4 linked regions of the Homo sapiens genome follow. The protein of the gene in region 2 interacts with the protein of the main gene of each other region in a biochemical or structural test. Each region holds a gene or a part of one and is shown on either strand. Other genes may lie near its edges. The genes, in order: KPNA3, EPAS1, KPNA5 and KPNB1.

Evidence for each region.
Region 1: the proteins of EPAS1 (region 2) and KPNA3 form a complex in vitro, tested with the Homo sapiens proteins (one study listed by BioGRID).
Region 3: the proteins of EPAS1 (region 2) and KPNA5 form a complex in vitro, tested with the Homo sapiens proteins (one study listed by BioGRID).
Region 4: the proteins of EPAS1 (region 2) and KPNB1 form a complex in vitro, tested with the Homo sapiens proteins (one study listed by BioGRID).

The regions. Positions count from the first base shown.
Region 1 is NC_000013.11:49,701,633-49,705,881, forward strand, and holds part of KPNA3 (importin subunit alpha-4), read right to left. Parts: intron 4,152-4,249; coding exon 3,989-4,151; intron 849-3,988; coding exon 754-848; intron 267-753; coding exon 168-266; 3' UTR 1-167. UniProt on the Homo sapiens protein: Functions in nuclear protein import as an adapter protein for nuclear receptor KPNB1. Binds specifically and directly to substrates containing either a simple or bipartite NLS motif.
Region 2 is NC_000002.12:46,376,887-46,381,204, forward strand, and holds part of EPAS1 (endothelial PAS domain-containing protein 1), read left to right. Parts: intron 1-1,007; coding exon 1,008-1,201; intron 1,202-1,770; coding exon 1,771-1,881; intron 1,882-3,340; coding exon 3,341-3,831; intron 3,832-4,318.
Region 3 is NC_000006.12:116,725,931-116,730,248, forward strand, and holds part of KPNA5 (importin subunit alpha-6), read left to right. Parts: intron 1-564; coding exon 565-692; intron 693-3,632; coding exon 3,633-3,811; intron 3,812-4,318. UniProt on the Homo sapiens protein: Functions in nuclear protein import as an adapter protein for nuclear receptor KPNB1. Binds specifically and directly to substrates containing either a simple or bipartite NLS motif.
Region 4 is NC_000017.11:47,652,859-47,657,176, forward strand, and holds part of KPNB1 (importin subunit beta-1), read left to right. Parts: coding exon 1-18; intron 19-4,001; coding exon 4,002-4,202; intron 4,203-4,318.

The sequences.
Region 1 (4,249 bases), on a different chromosome or scaffold from region 2:
TGACTTTTGGCAACTGCAAAGTGACTGAGACATGGCTTGCTTTAGAAGCATCAAAACAAAGAGGCATGTGTGTTTTGGAGCCTTTTGTTGCTGTTGTTCTTATCATTTGGTAGCCATCTGGTGGTGCTTCATATTGAATGTGGGAAAGATGCTGCACTCAACTGAATTTAAAAATTAAATTCTTTTGTTTGAAGGTTGGCTGTTGGATCAAAATTGTAGGTACCTCCTTGTGTTGCTTCAGGAATGAGGCAGGGATCTTCATCAATCTGTAAAAAACAAGAAAAAAATCCTTATTAGGTTATGATACTATACATTATGATGTAAGTGGAATTGACTTTTTACCTCTTAGCAAATAATTCTATGTGAATGCTTTAACCAACTAAAAATATTCGAGTAAATCAATAATTTTATTAAGAAATTTAACAATTTAAAATTTAACACGTTTCGAAACTGCATTGTTAAGTTTCTGTATCTGGGACCTAGATTTATTTAACCTATCTGAACATATATCACTTATATAATTACTATTTCTTCCTAGTTAATAGATTAGAAATGAAACAAGAACTGTTTTTACAACTTTACCTTATAATGAAGTTTCAAAGTATTTAAGAGAAAGTGACTGATGGAATGTCTAATAGAAATACAGTACAAACTTATGTCATCCTAATAATAAAAGGAAAACTCTTAGTAAATTTACATCATGTATAGGTTTTCATTTACATGAAGATACACGCTATTTTAATATCTACTTACATCATCACCAGAGAAATACTGATCTATGATTTCAAATGCTAATTTATATATGTCTTCATTTTCATGTTGCTGTAAAACTTCAATTTTCTCCAAACCTGGTAAAAATAAAATAATCAAAATAACTGGTTAATTGATAAGGAGATACTAATCAAAACCACACTCATTTTAATCATGGAGAAATCCTAAGGAACTCAGAACACACTGCTCCCCCATCTAAGATAGTGGTTTGTCTAAAAAACAGACAAAACACGGGGCTGCTTCTAGTTGGAGGACCAGAATCCCACTAATTTTTTCCTTCTTAGAAGCCCTTGAGGTACCCGGATCCCTGAGGCAGACAGTCTAAAAAAACACCCAAACAATCCATTTGACAGAGGGAAGCTGTGGCATAAATATGTAAAGAGACTTATTTCAAGTTATATGGCAAGTTTGTGACAGTACTAGAACCAACTCCCCCACAGTGCTTTAATATAAATTTACTAATCTATTTTTTTTTTGAGACGGAGTCTCGCTCTGTCACCCAGGCTGGAGTGCAGAGTGCAGAGGTGTGATCTCGGCTCACTGCAAGCTCCGCCTCCTGGGTTCATGCCATTCTCCCGCCTAAGCCTCCCAAGTAGCTGGGACTACAGGCGCCCGCCACCACACCCGGCTAAGTTTTTCTATTTTTAGCAGAGACGGGGTTTCACTATGTTAGCCAGGATGATCTTGATCTCCTGACCTCGTGATCTGCCCACCTCGGCCTCCCAAAGTGCTGGGATTACAGGCGTGAGCCACTGCGCCTGGGCATTTTTTCTTTCTTTCTTTTTTTTTTTTTTTTTTGAGACGGAGTCTCACTCTGTAGCCAGGGCTGGAGTGCAGTGGCACGTCTCGGCTCACTGCAACCTCCACCTCCTGGGTTCAAGTGTCTCCTGCCTCAGCCTCCCAAGTAGCTGGGATTACAGGTGCCCACCACTATGCCCAGCTAATTTTTTGTGTTTTTAGTAGAGACGGGGTTTCACCATGTTGGCCAGGCTGGTCTCGAACTCCTGACCTCGTGATTCGCCCGCCTTGGCCTCCCAAAGTGCTGGGATTACAGGAGTGAGCCACTGCACCCGGCCAATCTTATTAATCTTACTGCCTCATAAAGTAATTTGTATCTTTCTCTTTGTTTTCCAAATGTTATTACCTTTATATAACCACAAAATGAGTTTTTAGAACCTTATAATTGGTATAAAAGATATAAAGATTTAAATTTTGAAAAACTTTCTTTAAAAAATGAATAGAGGTCTTATGTCCTATAGCCACAATGAACCTGGGAGAAAATATTTCCAGAACAGATATCATAGAATGCCTTCATTTATATTTCCAATATATTTACTCCACACATCATATACATGTTTATCAATTTCACACCTTAATATTCTTCCTTGAAATGTCTTTTTGAAGGTTATTTTAAAATAGTTGCAATTTTTTCTTATATACTAATAAACCAAAAGAATGGGGGAAATCGTTGCCAAAGTGCTTTATACAATTATAAAATATTAATATGTATCCTATTACTCCTATAGACAAAAGTAACTATATTGATAAAAAGCTGAAGAGTAGTAATTCTCTAAGTTGCTCAAACTTACTGTGTTATGAACCTGACTACAATTTTTAATTATCTTAATAGTAAGAAGATCTGGATTTTAACTTTGCTTCTATCACAACCTACTTCTGTCACCTTGGACAAGACTCCTTAAAATCTGTGGGATAATTTCTTCTCAAGAAACCCTCCCGGCTGGGTGCAGTGGCTCACGCCTGTAATCCCAGCACTTTGGGAAGCCGAGGCGGGCAGATCACCCGAGGTTGGGAGTTTAAGACCAGCCTGACCAACACGGAGAAACCCTGCCTCTACTAAAAATACAAAAATTTAGCCGGGCGTGGTGGTGCATGCCTATAATCCCAGCTACTAGGGAGGCTGAGGTAGGAGAATTGCTTAAACCCGGGAGACGGAGGTTGCGGTGAGCCATTACACTCCAGCCTGGGCAACAAGAGCGAAACTCTGTCTCAAAAAAAAAATAAATAAATAAAAAATAAATAAATAAATAAATAAATAAATAAATAAATAAATAAATAAATAGAAAGAAAGAAATCCTCCCAGTCTGAATATTCTACGGTACTACTGCATTTGTTTTCTCTTAAAATAAATAAATAAATAAACAATAGAATATTCATATAAAGTAGTCAATGAAATGTAAAATCTAAAACATGACATTATGATAAACTAATTTAAGGTTTAAACATGTTAGTACATATTGAACATGTACATTTAAAAACAGAATTTTAACATATGTTTCACATGTCATTAAAGAATAATACAGTATGTCAAATCACAATTATTTCTCATTAAAATTTCAAAGTAACTGCCACAGTAATAACTTCAGGATGTAGTTGTGGAAATCCTAAGAATCATTACAAGATTGAAACAAAATATCTAGGTGACTCAGAAGTCAGTAACCTTTTCCAACTATATGAAATAATATTTCCTAAAGTGGGGTCCACAGAATTACATGGTAATAACACACAAAAAAAGTGTTTCATTGTTAAGAAGTTTAAGAAATGCTGGATTAAATAAAGCTTTAAAATTTATGTAGTGTTGTAAGGGCTCTTAAATTTGCTGTCATGCACTGTGACTTCAAGAGAAGTATTAGTGTTTCCTAAAATGCAATGTCAGGCCAGGCGCAGTGGCTCATGCCTGTAATCCCAGCACTTTGGGACGCTGAGGCAGGTGGATCACTTGAGGTCAGGAGTTCGAGACCAGCCTGGCCAACATGGTGAAACCTCGTCTCTATTAAAAACACAAAAATCCACTGGGTGTGGTGGTGTGCGCCTGTAATCCCGGCTACCTGGGAGGCTGAGGTGTGAGAATTGCTTGAACTCGGGAGGCAGAGGTTGCAATGAGCTGAGATTGTGCCACTGCACTCCAGCCTGGGCGACAGAGCAAGATTCTGTCTCCAAAAAAAAAAAAAAAAGCTATGTTGTCAATCTCTAGAAGGCTATACAGTGACTTTCACAACCTGATTTTGCAAAGTATGGACTACTGTCTTCTGGAAAATCCTCTTGGAATGCAAATATAGTGAATAAAGAAAAGCAACATACTGTGATCATTTAAAAACAACGTATCCTAGTAATTTTCTGTCTAGTAAGTTGACTTTAAAGAACTTATGTTTCAGAGTTCCAGTGCTCAAATACTCTTCTTCCATCAATCCACTCTTACCTCCACATTCCTCTATTATTTCAGCTATTGTGCTTGCTTCATCACCGGCCATTATCAGAATGTTTTTTAGACCATCTAGAACCACCTGAACCACTTGAGAATCTTTCACTGACAGTAAATTACAGAACGGTGGTATTACATTCTGCTGTACAAGGTACTCAACCTAGACAACAAAAGAGAAGAAATATTTTTATTTATATAATTATCTATTTCCCAGTAGGGTGTCGTGCTACATGGAAGGCTGAGGCAGGAGGCTATCTT
Region 2 (4,318 bases):
CCTGTTAGAGGCCAGGCCCTGCTGAGCACAAAAGAACACCACACGCTCCTGCCCTGATAAGACCATCCCATATCCGACCTCACCAAGTGCTGTACGAGGAGGGGTTAAGAGAGGACACCCCCCTGAGGGTCGATTCTCCACCATGGGTGGTGAGAGTCTGAGATGAGAGGGAGGGGAGAGGTGAGGGATCTGCTCCGAGGCCACTTGGACACTGTCAAAGAGAAGGGGCAGATTCCTACCAGGGTCTGGAAGGACAGATGGCTTGTTCAGGCAGAGGGCCAAGTTGGAGTAATGTTGGGAAGGATCATTCCAAAAACACAGAGAACATATTGAGGCCTGGGATTAAGCCCTCAAACCCACGACTTCATTAAAGTGTCTGCCTGTCCCTGGGGATGTAAGTCACTGGGGACCCCGGCAGGGTTTTCAGCCCTCGGCTGCTCCAATCCTGGAAACACCCTTGAAGCCCCATGCTCCCCAGTTCGCAACCCGCTGCCACCCTCTCCTGGCCTTGCTGTGGCTGCCGGAAGAGTGGTGCTCACCCTGGACTGTGTCAGCCCCTTTTAGATGGGTTCTACAGCGGCCACGTGAGGATTGCAGCTAAAGAGAATCTGAAACGCAGCGGGCCCTTGGCCAGTAGGTCTCGCGGCTTGTTTTGTGGCAGTACTGAGGCAAATAGCTCAATAGCCCAATTCTCCTCTCCCTCTCATACCTTCCTTGTCTACCCTTCCGGATCTGTTCCTCAGGGAAGAGTGGCTCCTAATATATTTAGTCTCTGAAAATTAAATGTCCCAGGAGACTGTTCCGTTTAAAGGGAGTCTCTACGTTGACTCATAGCCAGAGTCAAAGACCCATGTGTTCCAGCTGAGCCCCAGGGTGTTGGGGGGGCCTAGCCCCAGGCATGCCTTCCAGACCCTCTTAGGGCCTTCTCTGCGGTTTTTGGGCCTCCTCTGCCTTGGGGTGAGCCCGATGGTTGTGGGTGTTCACCTCCCAGGCCCTTGTCTCCACAGGGAATCAGAACTTCGAGGAGTCCTCAGCCTATGGCAAGGCCATCCTGCCCCCGAGCCAGCCATGGGCCACGGAGTTGAGGAGCCACAGCACCCAGAGCGAGGCTGGGAGCCTGCCTGCCTTCACCGTGCCCCAGGCAGCTGCCCCGGGCAGCACCACCCCCAGTGCCACCAGCAGCAGCAGCAGCTGCTCCACGGTGAGCAGCCCTCTTATGGCGAGGACACAGAGAGGGCTCCGTATGTATGACTGCTGCCAGATGGCTGAAGGGACATTTGGGACAGGTACTGTCCTTCTCAGGTTATCACAGAGCCCCCTAGAGTGGCCGTGACACTTACCTACCAGGTATCAGAGCTGTTTTCTTCCTTTTAGTGTTCATCCCCCAACTCCATTGAAATAAGCTCCTTGAAGGGCTTTGAGCCCCCAGCTCAGTCCCCATACAGGGCAGTAACATCCCGTATGTGGCACAGAGCTGCACAGTTTGCACAGCCCTGCTGGCCACAGCCTGTATCCTGTTTGGTCCTCAAGACAGGACAACCTGTGAAGCGACAGTAGCCTCATTTTATGATGAGGAGACTGGAATTTAGAGAGGTTGATGAATTGACCTAATTCATACAGCTTGTTAATTAGCAGCCCCTCTACAAATAGTTGTGTGGTGGAATGGAATTGAACCTTTGGGTCCAGGAAGGTATTTCTTCTTCCATGCTGGACTTCTGGGGAGACCAGTGCCATATCTTTGACTCTGTCCCCCTCCTTCCTGGCCCCTAGCCCAATAGCCCTGAAGACTATTACACATCTTTGGATAACGACCTGAAGATTGAAGTGATTGAGAAGCTCTTCGCCATGGACACAGAGGCCAAGGACCAATGCAGTACCCAGGTAGATGGCTGTGGAGATCAGGCTAGGGTGTGTGCCTGCTGTCTGGTGGACAGCAAAGGCTCACATCCATTCTTGTAGCCTCATCCCTTTGTTGTAAAGAGCAGTGGAGACGTTTGGCCAAGGCCCAGGTCCCCTAAAGAGGTAGGGGTACAGGGTAATGGAGCCTGTGGTCACCCCCTCCTCCCACTGTCAAATCCAGCTCTTCCAGCATATGTGTCTCCTACTTAGATAGCTTTCTTAGCACACATGAAAACCGAAATGATACCACTGCACCTTTCTTTAAACAGGCCCTACATTTAACAAGCATAGCCAGATGTATAAAACATGTATAAACATAGGGGACAATTAATCCCTTTATAAACACATTCATCTTGTGATTTTAAAAAAATAATCATTTTTATATGAAATGCACTTTAAAATAAATAACATCTGTTTGACAATTTTTCATTTACATAAAACTTTTCAGGAACACATTTATTACATAAGGCCAATGTTCTTGCAAAAACTATGTAAACAAGGATAAGGTAGAGGGAGGGGTACGTGTTTTACAAAACCCCAGGGAAAACCATTAATCCCCCATTTGTCTTAGTCTTGAGTTCAACCAGATTTCTGCCTTGCCACTTAGTTTGTTTCTTGATCCTACTTGGCACAAATCCCAGCTACTCTGCAAAACATGCCCAATTTTAGCTTTTCTATCACCCTCCCTCCTCAGCACTCCTGTAGTATATATCATGTGGCACTTAATCACAGCTATCTGCTTCTGCTCCTTAAAGATTGCTTAGTATTGCAGTCATTAGTCAGCTGACACCCACTGAGGGTGTCAGTCTCTGAAGTTAGAAACTGTTTTCCGCATCTGCTTGTATTCCCCTGCTTGTATCATGCGTCCGTCATGATACTGCCACCCTAAGGGATGATCTGAGTATCTGCTGATTGGAACCAAAGTCTCTGTCCCTGGGGTCTGGCTGTTAGGCTGTTACTCTGCGAGAGTCCACAGATGGACCTGGGCACTTACTGCTTGCTTAGGCCCGTGCCAGCTTACAGGAGGGAGAAGAGGACAAAAAAAAGCCACAGTGTGCACCACAGGCCTAAGCATTGTAGGACAAGGATAACCACCACAGGCTGGAGTAGGCAGGGCTGACTCTGTGGAAGAGGGGCTGCCTCGGCTTCAAGAGAGAAGGCGGGCTCCGGACAGGTGGGATGGGGAGAGGAGAACATTTCTCAATGTGCAGGGTGAAGAGGGGATAAACATGGGGGAAGGCTGGTACATGATACAAGGTCGTGTACATGACACAGCCAAGTCTGAGGTTTTCCTGATAGGCCCTCGGGAGCCAGTGGAGGCGTTTGAGCAGCACTGTGAAACAGTGCTTGAGATGAATGGCTCTGCAGGAGCTGAGTTGGAATAGTGTTTGTGAGGTCGTACCAACCCCCTTGCCTCTTTGCCGGTGCTGTCTCCCCTCAGACGGATTTCAATGAGCTGGACTTGGAGACACTGGCACCCTATATCCCCATGGACGGGGAAGACTTCCAGCTAAGCCCCATCTGCCCCGAGGAGCGGCTCTTGGCGGAGAACCCACAGTCCACCCCCCAGCACTGCTTCAGTGCCATGACAAACATCTTCCAGCCACTGGCCCCTGTAGCCCCGCACAGTCCCTTCCTCCTGGACAAGTTTCAGCAGCAGCTGGAGAGCAAGAAGACAGAGCCCGAGCACCGGCCCATGTCCTCCATCTTCTTTGATGCCGGAAGCAAAGCATCCCTGCCACCGTGCTGTGGCCAGGCCAGCACCCCTCTCTCTTCCATGGGGGGCAGATCCAATACCCAGTGGCCCCCAGATCCACCATTACATTTTGGGCCCACAAAGTGGGCCGTCGGGGATCAGCGCACAGAGTTCTTGGGAGCAGCGCCGTTGGGGCCCCCTGTCTCTCCACCCCATGTCTCCACCTTCAAGACAAGGTAAGTGGCAGATACTCAGCTGTACCAGCAGGGCCGAACCGAGAGGCACCCACTAGTAAGATAGCTGGACCCCCAGGGAGGCCCCTGCCCCTCTCCCCAGCCATCTGATACCCCATTTAGCCCTTCTCTGAGCTCAGACTTTGGGGAATCACCTCAAGCCATGTGAGGCCTAGTGTAGGATGGGTTTTTATCTGGGCTGCCACTGAGGGCAGGCAAAGAAGTGGCTTGTTGAGAGCCCTGTACCTCAGTGTCTCCCTTCGGACCACCACCAGAGTGCCTTTCGTATCTCGGTTCATCATCTGAGCCACACAGAAAATTGAGTGATGATTTTCCCTGGTTGAAAACAGCAAAAAGATACCCCTGCCTCCCCTTGCCTTTTGGCTGCCCCCGGGTCCTCGCCACTGCAGCCTCTCCCAGCTGTGCCTAGGCTCCAGAAATGCCTTCCCATCTCCCCAGCATGCTCATTTCACCAGCTGCGAGCTCACTG
Region 3 (4,318 bases), on a different chromosome or scaffold from region 2:
GACAAAAGTTAACACTTTTACTAAAAAAGATTCCTTTTTAAAAAGATACCGAAAAAGTATTTTAAAGAACATGGGCTTTCCTCCTCTAAAATAATAACATTTACTTGTAGTATTCTAGTGAAGAACATCAAGTGTGTGTGTGTGTGTGTGTGTCTAGCACAGTGCCTGACACATAATGGTTTGTCTTTAGAAAGATATTTTTTTGCATTAGTTTTAAATAAGTTATGCAATAATCTTCCTCTCAAAGCTTTTAATGATTTATTAGGGTTCTATCAAGCTTCTTGTGTCAGTGATTACTTATCCATTTTGATCAGTCACATGGCTTGTGCTTTATCATCTCTAAAATTTATATTTTGCTATTCTCCAGTCTTTAAAAAGCTAATTTCCTATGTAAAAAGAAAAATATTTGAAAAGTTTGCTGACAGAATAGAAATTAAAAATTTATTTTAATGTCAAGGTTCCAAAAACCTTGACATTTTGAAGCCATTGAGTTTCAAGATTTTTTTTACTGGTAATATTTTAGAAACAGTATTTGTACTGATTATATATTTTTCCCCCTCTCAGGCTGTTATAGATGCAAATATTTTTCCTGTTTTGATTGAGATTCTTCAGAAAGCAGAGTTTCGTACCAGAAAAGAAGCAGCTTGGGCTATAACTAATGCAACATCAGGAGGTACTCCAGAGCAAATAAGGTATGATATAAACTTCTTAATTGTTTTTTACATGTAAATGAGACAAAAGTTGAAATAAAACATATTTTAATTTACTGATGGAACTAAAATATTATTTCTAAGTCAGTTTGATAATATGAAATGACAGCATGTATTATATCAGTTACTCATTCACAATTTTTTTTTCCCCATTTAACGTGTAATTAACATCATTCTCCTTGATAGGCTGCTTAAGAAAAATCAGAGATTAAAAAATCCAAACGGGAACGGTCTATGTTAATTTGCAGAGTACACTGTCATGGGCATTAAATATTTTTTAATCACAAAAATATAGCTTTATTATATAGAAATGGCTAATAAATTTGAATATCCACTTACTTTAAATAAAATTGAAATAGACATTGTTTATATGGTGATGTTCTGGTCCTCATTGATTGTTAGCCTTGCCTATGGATAGTATCTTTTATTTTTCTATACTAGTTACCTTTTTTTTATATTAGCTTTTTGAGTCTAGGCTTTTTAAATTTATTTATTCTGCTGACAATGTAAATAATAGGTGCATGGGCTTTTAAGTCAGCCTGATTTCAAATCCTGCTCCTTCAGTAAAAGTTGTGTGGTCTTGACAAAGTCATTTAACCCCTCTAATCTAGTTTCTTCATTTTAAAAAATGAGTTCCAGTAATGAATAGTTATGGCAGTGTAAGTCAGCCTTCCATATCCTTGGGTTTTGCATCTGTGGATTCAACCACCTGCAGGTCAAAAATATTAAAAAAGAAAAAGACAGTAAAAAATGCCAGTACAACACTACAAAATAATGCAAATTTAAAAACACAATACAACAATTAGTAACATCATAGCAATTACATTGTTTTAGGTATTATAAGTAATCTAAAGATAATTTCAAATACTTGGAAAGATATGCATAGGTTGTATGCAAATACTATGCCATTTTATATAAAGGAATTGAGCATCTGTGGATTTTGGTATTGAGAGGAAGGGTGTCTTGGAACCAATCTCCGATGAAACCGAGGGACTGTATCTTGATAGTTAAGTGAAATTTATGTCTTTGAAGTGTCAGCACAGTGCCTAAACATATTATTAATAACTAATAGATAATTAAGAATAGCTACTGTTATTATTTGTAATCATCATAATTTTTATTATCAGTATTGATTCCTGAATCTTTTATCATGTACTTTCACTCTTTTTTATCTCCCATAGCAAAGTTTCACTTACACCTCTACTAAAAGCTTCTACAGAATCGTCTTGTTCGGAGGATCCCTCCATGAAACTAGACTTCTTAGAAAATATTTTCTAATGCATATTTGATTTATTTTTCAATTTATAAAACAAGTCAAACTACAGTGCTATTTTATAAATCACATAATTTTGAAATCTACCTATTGTGAAATTGTCGTCTTTTATTGCCTTCATTTGTAGTATTATCTTGCTCTCTCAAATTTGTATAGCTGTATATTGCTAGCATCTGTCTCTGCCTTTTATTTTCTATTCTATCTCTTTGCTTTCATCAGTATTTCCACTTTGTGTCATGGATACAAGCAGTAATAAATGAAGACCCTTCCTTTGTTCTATTTTGTATTTTTTTAATGTTGATGTTACTTTTATTTTATTTGGGCTGCAAGTTTGTTCACCTGCAAATAGTTGTATTTTTTCAATTAATTTTTGTGGTTATATCTATTCTGTATATTATTGCTTTAATTTATTAGTATGGATTAAGTATCCAAACTGAGATAATTATTTTTCTAACCACTTTTATCATTTCATTAAGTTTGCATATTTGGGAAAAGACCTCTTGATCTCAGATTAAGTTATGCATCCATACCACTAGTTGAGTGCCTACTATTGCCAGTTATTGTGCTAAGTAAGTCATTTCAGTTATTGAGCACCAGCAATGTGTCTGGTACTTTCATGTATTTTATCTCCTGTAATCTCTTAACTATGAGGCAGTTATTCATTCAACAGATATTTTTGACCAATTACAGTACAGTATAGGGCAAATGAGTGCTCTGGTGAAGGTATATACATCTTTTTTTTTTAAGAGGGACAGAAACTTTTATTAAATGTCTATTGTGTTCTTACAACTACTCTCTGAAGTTGGTACTATTATTATTCCCATTTTTAAGATGGGGAAACTGAGACACAGAGTAATTGCTCAAGGTCACACAACTAATAAGGGGTGGAATTGGGACTTGAAGGCACACAGCCTGGCTTCATAGTATGTTTTTAACCTTTGTACTTAATATGGACTTTTTGCCAAGTGAACAAATCAGTTACTTCATTTACATTATAGAGTACAGAAAACCAGCCAATAACTAGAAAAGGACATGCATTCAGAAATTAAAGAATTTTTTTGTGAATATTATTTATGAACATTATTCACAAGAGAGCCTGTTTTGTTCCTACAGGCCTTCTATCCTTCTGAAACACAGTATATGTTTCAGAACATTAGCTGTGATTGTTTTTATGGGAAATTTTCTCAAGTTTAATTTAGATGTCTCTTCTTTCTTTCCATTTCTGTCTACCCCCATATGACCTCCGTGTGTGTGTGTGTGTGTGTGTGTGTGTGTGTGTGTGTGTGTCTGTGTGTAGGCTTGCCTTTAAAAAAAAAAAAAAACAACCTTTCGAACCTACGTTTAATGCTCAGATGAGCACCATGAAAAACAGGCCGAAGTACCAGTTTGTGTCTGTATTTTATAGTCTTTGCAAGACCATTTATTGCTAATTATGTTAAATTAGAGAATAGGTGAGTAAAGAAAATTTTAAGTTTCCTATGTGAGAATTTAAATGTGTGTAATGTTTGCATTTGTATAGGAATACTTTTTCTTAATTGCTTATGTAACATTTCACTATGAAAAATATTTTTGTGTCATTGTTACAAACAGTACTTAAGTCTTTTTAAATCTTTTTTTCCCTGTTTCTTCTCTTTTATATTAATCTGAAGGTATTTGGTAGCTTTAGGCTGCATTAAACCACTTTGTGATCTTTTGACTGTTATGGACTCCAAAATAGTCCAAGTGGCTTTAAATGGACTTGAAAATATTTTACGTCTTGGAGAACAAGAATCTAAGCAGAATGGAATAGGCATTAATCCATACTGTGCTCTCATTGAAGAAGCATATGGTAAGCAATCAGTTAAAAATTTGCAATTATAGTCAGTTCTTATATCTGTCATACTTTCCCCTTCCAGTTCCCTACAATTTTTTTGTTGTAAAAGCAGTATGTATTTTTTTAAGTTTTAAAATGTCACCCGTAATTTTATTACCCTAACAATTTATTTTTATTATTTACCTTTTTTTAACATTGTCTGTATGCACAAATACTTTACATTGACTTAATTGTATTGTATGTATAGTTTTATGTTCTACTTTTTAACATTTTGGAGAAATTTTACATTTCTACATAATTTTTATTATAATGGCCACATAATGTTATGTATATACTATATATATATAAAAATATGTAATTTTTTTTTTTTTTTTTTTTGAGACACAGTTTTACTCCGTCTCCCAGGCTGGAGTGCGGTGGTGTGGTCTTGGCTCACTGAAACCTCCACCTCCCATGTTCAAGCAATTCATGTGCCTCAGCTTCCTGAGTAGCTGGGATTACAGGTGCATGCCACCATGCCCG
Region 4 (4,318 bases), on a different chromosome or scaffold from region 2:
CGAGAAGTCAAGAACTATGTGAGTAACGCTTATCTGTTTGGTTATATTGCCCAGAGAACAAGAAATCGCTTTCTCAGATCTTTTGCTATTTGCATGGGATAGAGCTAACAGTGTGATAGGTTTCTGGGACCTCAACTTTACCTAAAGATAAAAATTGTCTTTGTCTTAAATCTTTCTCAACACAGCTTGTCCATTCCCATTGATGGATTGGAATTCTTTTTAGATGACTGAGGTAGGCTGCAGCAGTTTGGGAAACTTTAATTACGTGCCATAATTGGTAAAATCTGTTTGGCAAATGGGAGTAGTGTACAAATTGGTGCTACATTTGTATAAAAATTAGGGAATTTGTTAATAGGTATTTCCAAGCTCTCCAGAAATTCCGATTCGGTACTTCTGGAGTACAGCTCAGGGAATTTTTTTTTTTTTTTTTTTTTGGAGACAGTCTTGCTCTGTTGCCCAGGCTGGAGTGCAATGGCATGATCTCGGCTCACTGCAGCCTCCGCCTCCCAAGTAGCTGGGATTACAGGCACCCACCACCATGCCCAGCTAATTTTTGTACTTGAAGTAGAGACGGGGTTTCACCATGTTGGCCAGGCTGGTCTTGAACTCCTGACCTCAGGTGATCTGCCTGCCTTGGCTTCCCAAAGTGCTGGGATTACAGGAGTGAGCCACCTCGCCTGGCTGTTGTTGTTTTTAAATTAAGTTCTTTAGTGATCTGTCTTACATGGGTAAGGCACAAAGAGGAGTGAGTTAAATATCTGTGCAGTCATCATTTTGTCCTTGGTATTTGAGTGGAAACTAGTGGGGAATTCCTACATATGTACTTGTGCAGGACATGGTTATGCACATCATACTTGCTATTTCCTGGTTCTAGATATCAGCATTAGGTAAAGTAGTGCCCTGTAAGGCAGTAACTTCTGTATCTGGTTGTGTACCTCCTTCTGTCACCAATCTTGCATACCCATGATAAGGAGCCGGGTTATTAAATCCAACTTGGTTTCAAATCGTTTTGGAGCATGTAGAGCTGTTTCTATTCATGTTGGTTCTGCTTGTGTAATAACAACATTTTAATTCCTTCTCCCTCAGCTAAGTGACATAAATGGAAGTATATTCTATCACTGGAAATCTCGATACTGATAGTGCCCATTCAGTTTCTCATCTTCCTTAATTTACACACTAGTAAATGGGATAAGATGTAATTGGAATTGTAATTGGCTTATTTTTTGGCACATCACTCTTAACACCAACCCTTTAAAAAAAAATTAGACAATAATGGCTGGGCGCAGTGGCTCATGCCTGTCATCCCAGCACTTTGAGAGGCCGAGGTGGGTGGATCACCTGAGGTCAGGAGTTCGAGACCAGCCTGGCCAACATGGCGAAACCCTGTCTCTACTAAAAATACAAAAATTAGCTGGCTGTGGCGGTGGATACCTGTAGTCTCAGCTACTCTGGAGGCTTAGGCAGGAGAATTGCTTGAACCTGGGAGGCGGAGATTGTGGTGAGCCAAGATTGCGCATTGCACTCCAGCCTGGGTGACAGAGTGACACTCCATTTCTTAAAAAAAAAAAAAAAAAAAAAATTAGATAATTTGTATAGGCATGGTTAAGCCCTCGGGCATGAGAAAAAAGCTAACAGTACCTTGGCCTTTTTCCCTTTCATAGCACAACGATAACTAATACTAAGTTTCACTGTTGGTGATCTTTTTTGAAATCTGGATATTGGGGCACAATTGGGAGCTAGTTTCTCTTTTCTGATAATTGAATATTACTATTAAGGTTACCTCTAGTTTAAACAGAAAACTTTTAGTACTCAGGAGGTGGACATCCGTAGTTTCTAAATCACCTCAAGTAATATGGAGTCTTCAGAAAGCAATCTAAAGGAAAAAGGTAAAGGTAGAATGGGATTCAGTGCACTCCACATATGTACTAGGAGACTATGTAGTGTGGTGTGAAGGCACCCTGGACTTGGGTTAATAATACCCATTCAGCCCCTGATATTTTGGACAATTCACCTTGTTTTTCCCCCTCATTCCCTCGTGTCTTTGACATACCGTTTTTGTCCATTCTAGCTCTGCTAGTCCTCGAGAGCAAAGCCTTTCATTTAACATCAATCAGAACTGTTTGTAGTTGGGTAGAGCTGATGGGGGTGGGGGCCAGGGATGATGATATACCGTATAAGAAGGAAAGGGGGAGTTCATTATTGGTGCTAGCTGCAAAGCAGGATACTAAGTGATCCGACCCAGTCAGCAGAGCTGGCCTGAATATCTGGCAGCTATTCTTTGTCCCGTGTTCATGCCAGAACAGTTAACTGTTTGCCTTTGAGTGGACTACTGATTCTTAGTGAGTTCATTGACTGAATTAGCTGATCACGGTAATAATTAGCTCTAGGTCAATTGTGGCTTCATCTTTTATCATACCTGTGCCTTTACTCTTTACATAAATGGTGGCGTGGTTACCATGTCAAGCGAGACATGTTTAATGACAAGTGGATCTTGTTTTGACATCTGGCTAGATTTTGGTATCTGTCAGTGATAGAACAGTTCTTTGATTCTTGGGCAAACAGAACAAATCCTTTCAGATTGGAAGTTATATAAAGATTAGTTCATAGGTGTTATTAACATCAGCAACGTTGTTTTTGTATTTAGTGATGTTGTTACTTGACCAAGGCCTTTCTATGTAAGTCACCCCGAATGCTGAGTTGTTAGTGATTAGAAGGAAAAAGTTTTGTTTCAGCCCACGTCTCATGAGTAAGATCTCCTTGGATCAGATTAGACAGTGATCTACTGTGAATAAGACCCACCTGAATGCCCCAGAACTAGCTTCATTCTAGTGTCCATGTCTGTCTACAAAACGAGGGTGTGAACATCCTTTCCTTATAACAGCAACAATGAGCCTGGAAGATGAGTTTTGTCCCCATCTCTCTCCTTTGCCATTTACTGCTACCTCCTCTTGTAACTTCTGGTTTCCCACCTCGTGTTGAAGGTTGAAGTGAGGTGGGATGACTGGTTTTGTTTCTAGGTTCTAGGGCAGTGTTGATTATGCTGATGTTGCTACTGAGGCTGGTTTTTTCTGACAGCCTTTCCTACTTCTCCGTATTATAGATAAGAATTCTGAGGCCAGGCACAGTGGCTCACGCCTGTCATCCCAGTACTTTGGTAGGCCGAGGTGGGTGGATCACCTGAGGTCAGGAGTTTGAGACTGTCCTGGCCAACATGGTGAAACCCCATCTCTACTAAAAATACAAAAACTAGCCGGGCATGGTGGCAGGCACCTGTAATCCCAGCTACTTGCTGGGGGGAGCTAAGGCAGGAGAATCGCTTGAACCCAGAAGGCGGAGGTTGCAGTGAGCCGAGATCGCGCCATCATGCTCCAGCCTGGGGGACACGAGCGAGACTTTGTCTCAAAAAAAAAAAGAATTCTGAGACAGCTGCCTGGGCACAGTGGCTCACACCTGTAATCCTAGCACTTTGGGAGGCCAGGAATTTGAGACCAGCCTGGGCAACATAGGGAGACCCCCATCTCTACTAAAAACCCAAAAAAGTTAGCTGGGTGTGATGGCATGTGCCTGTAGTCTAAGCTACTCAGGGAGGCCTGGGAGGTCAAGGCTGCAGTATCGTTGTGCCATTGCACTATCGTTTTGCTACTACACTCCACCCTGGACAACTGACTGAGGCCTTGTATTTTCCTTTTTTTTTTTTTGAGCCTGGGCAATATGGTGATGCCCTGTCTCAACAAAAGATAGCTGGGCATGTCAGCATATCCACCCCTGTAGTTCAGTTACTCAGGAGCCTGAGGCGGGAGGATAGATTGCACCGTAGAGATTGAGGCTACAGTGAGCTGTGATCGTGCCACTGCACTCCAGTCCGGGCAACATAGTGAGACCCTGTCTTAAGAAAGAAAGAAAAAAAAGAATTCAGAGACACTAATATAAGTATGGTGGTGGGCAAAATGTGGTCAAATAGTGTTAGAAATTTGTATCTTTTGTCTTTTTTTTTGGTGCAGGTTTTGCAGACATTGGGTACAGAAACTTACCGGCCTAGTTCTGCCTCACAGTGTGTGGCTGGTATTGCTTGTGCAGAGATCCCAGTAAACCAGTGGCCAGAACTCATTCCTCAGCTGGTGGCCAATGTCACAAACCCCAACAGCACAGAGCACATGAAGGAGTCGACATTGGAAGCCATCGGTTATATTTGCCAAGATATAGTAAGTGCTTGCCTAATGTATCTGGTTTATATACCTCTGATTGCCTCTAGCTGTGACATCAATGATATTAGTACTACCTTATTGAATCACGAAGAAAGCCAAGCTAAATTGCACAG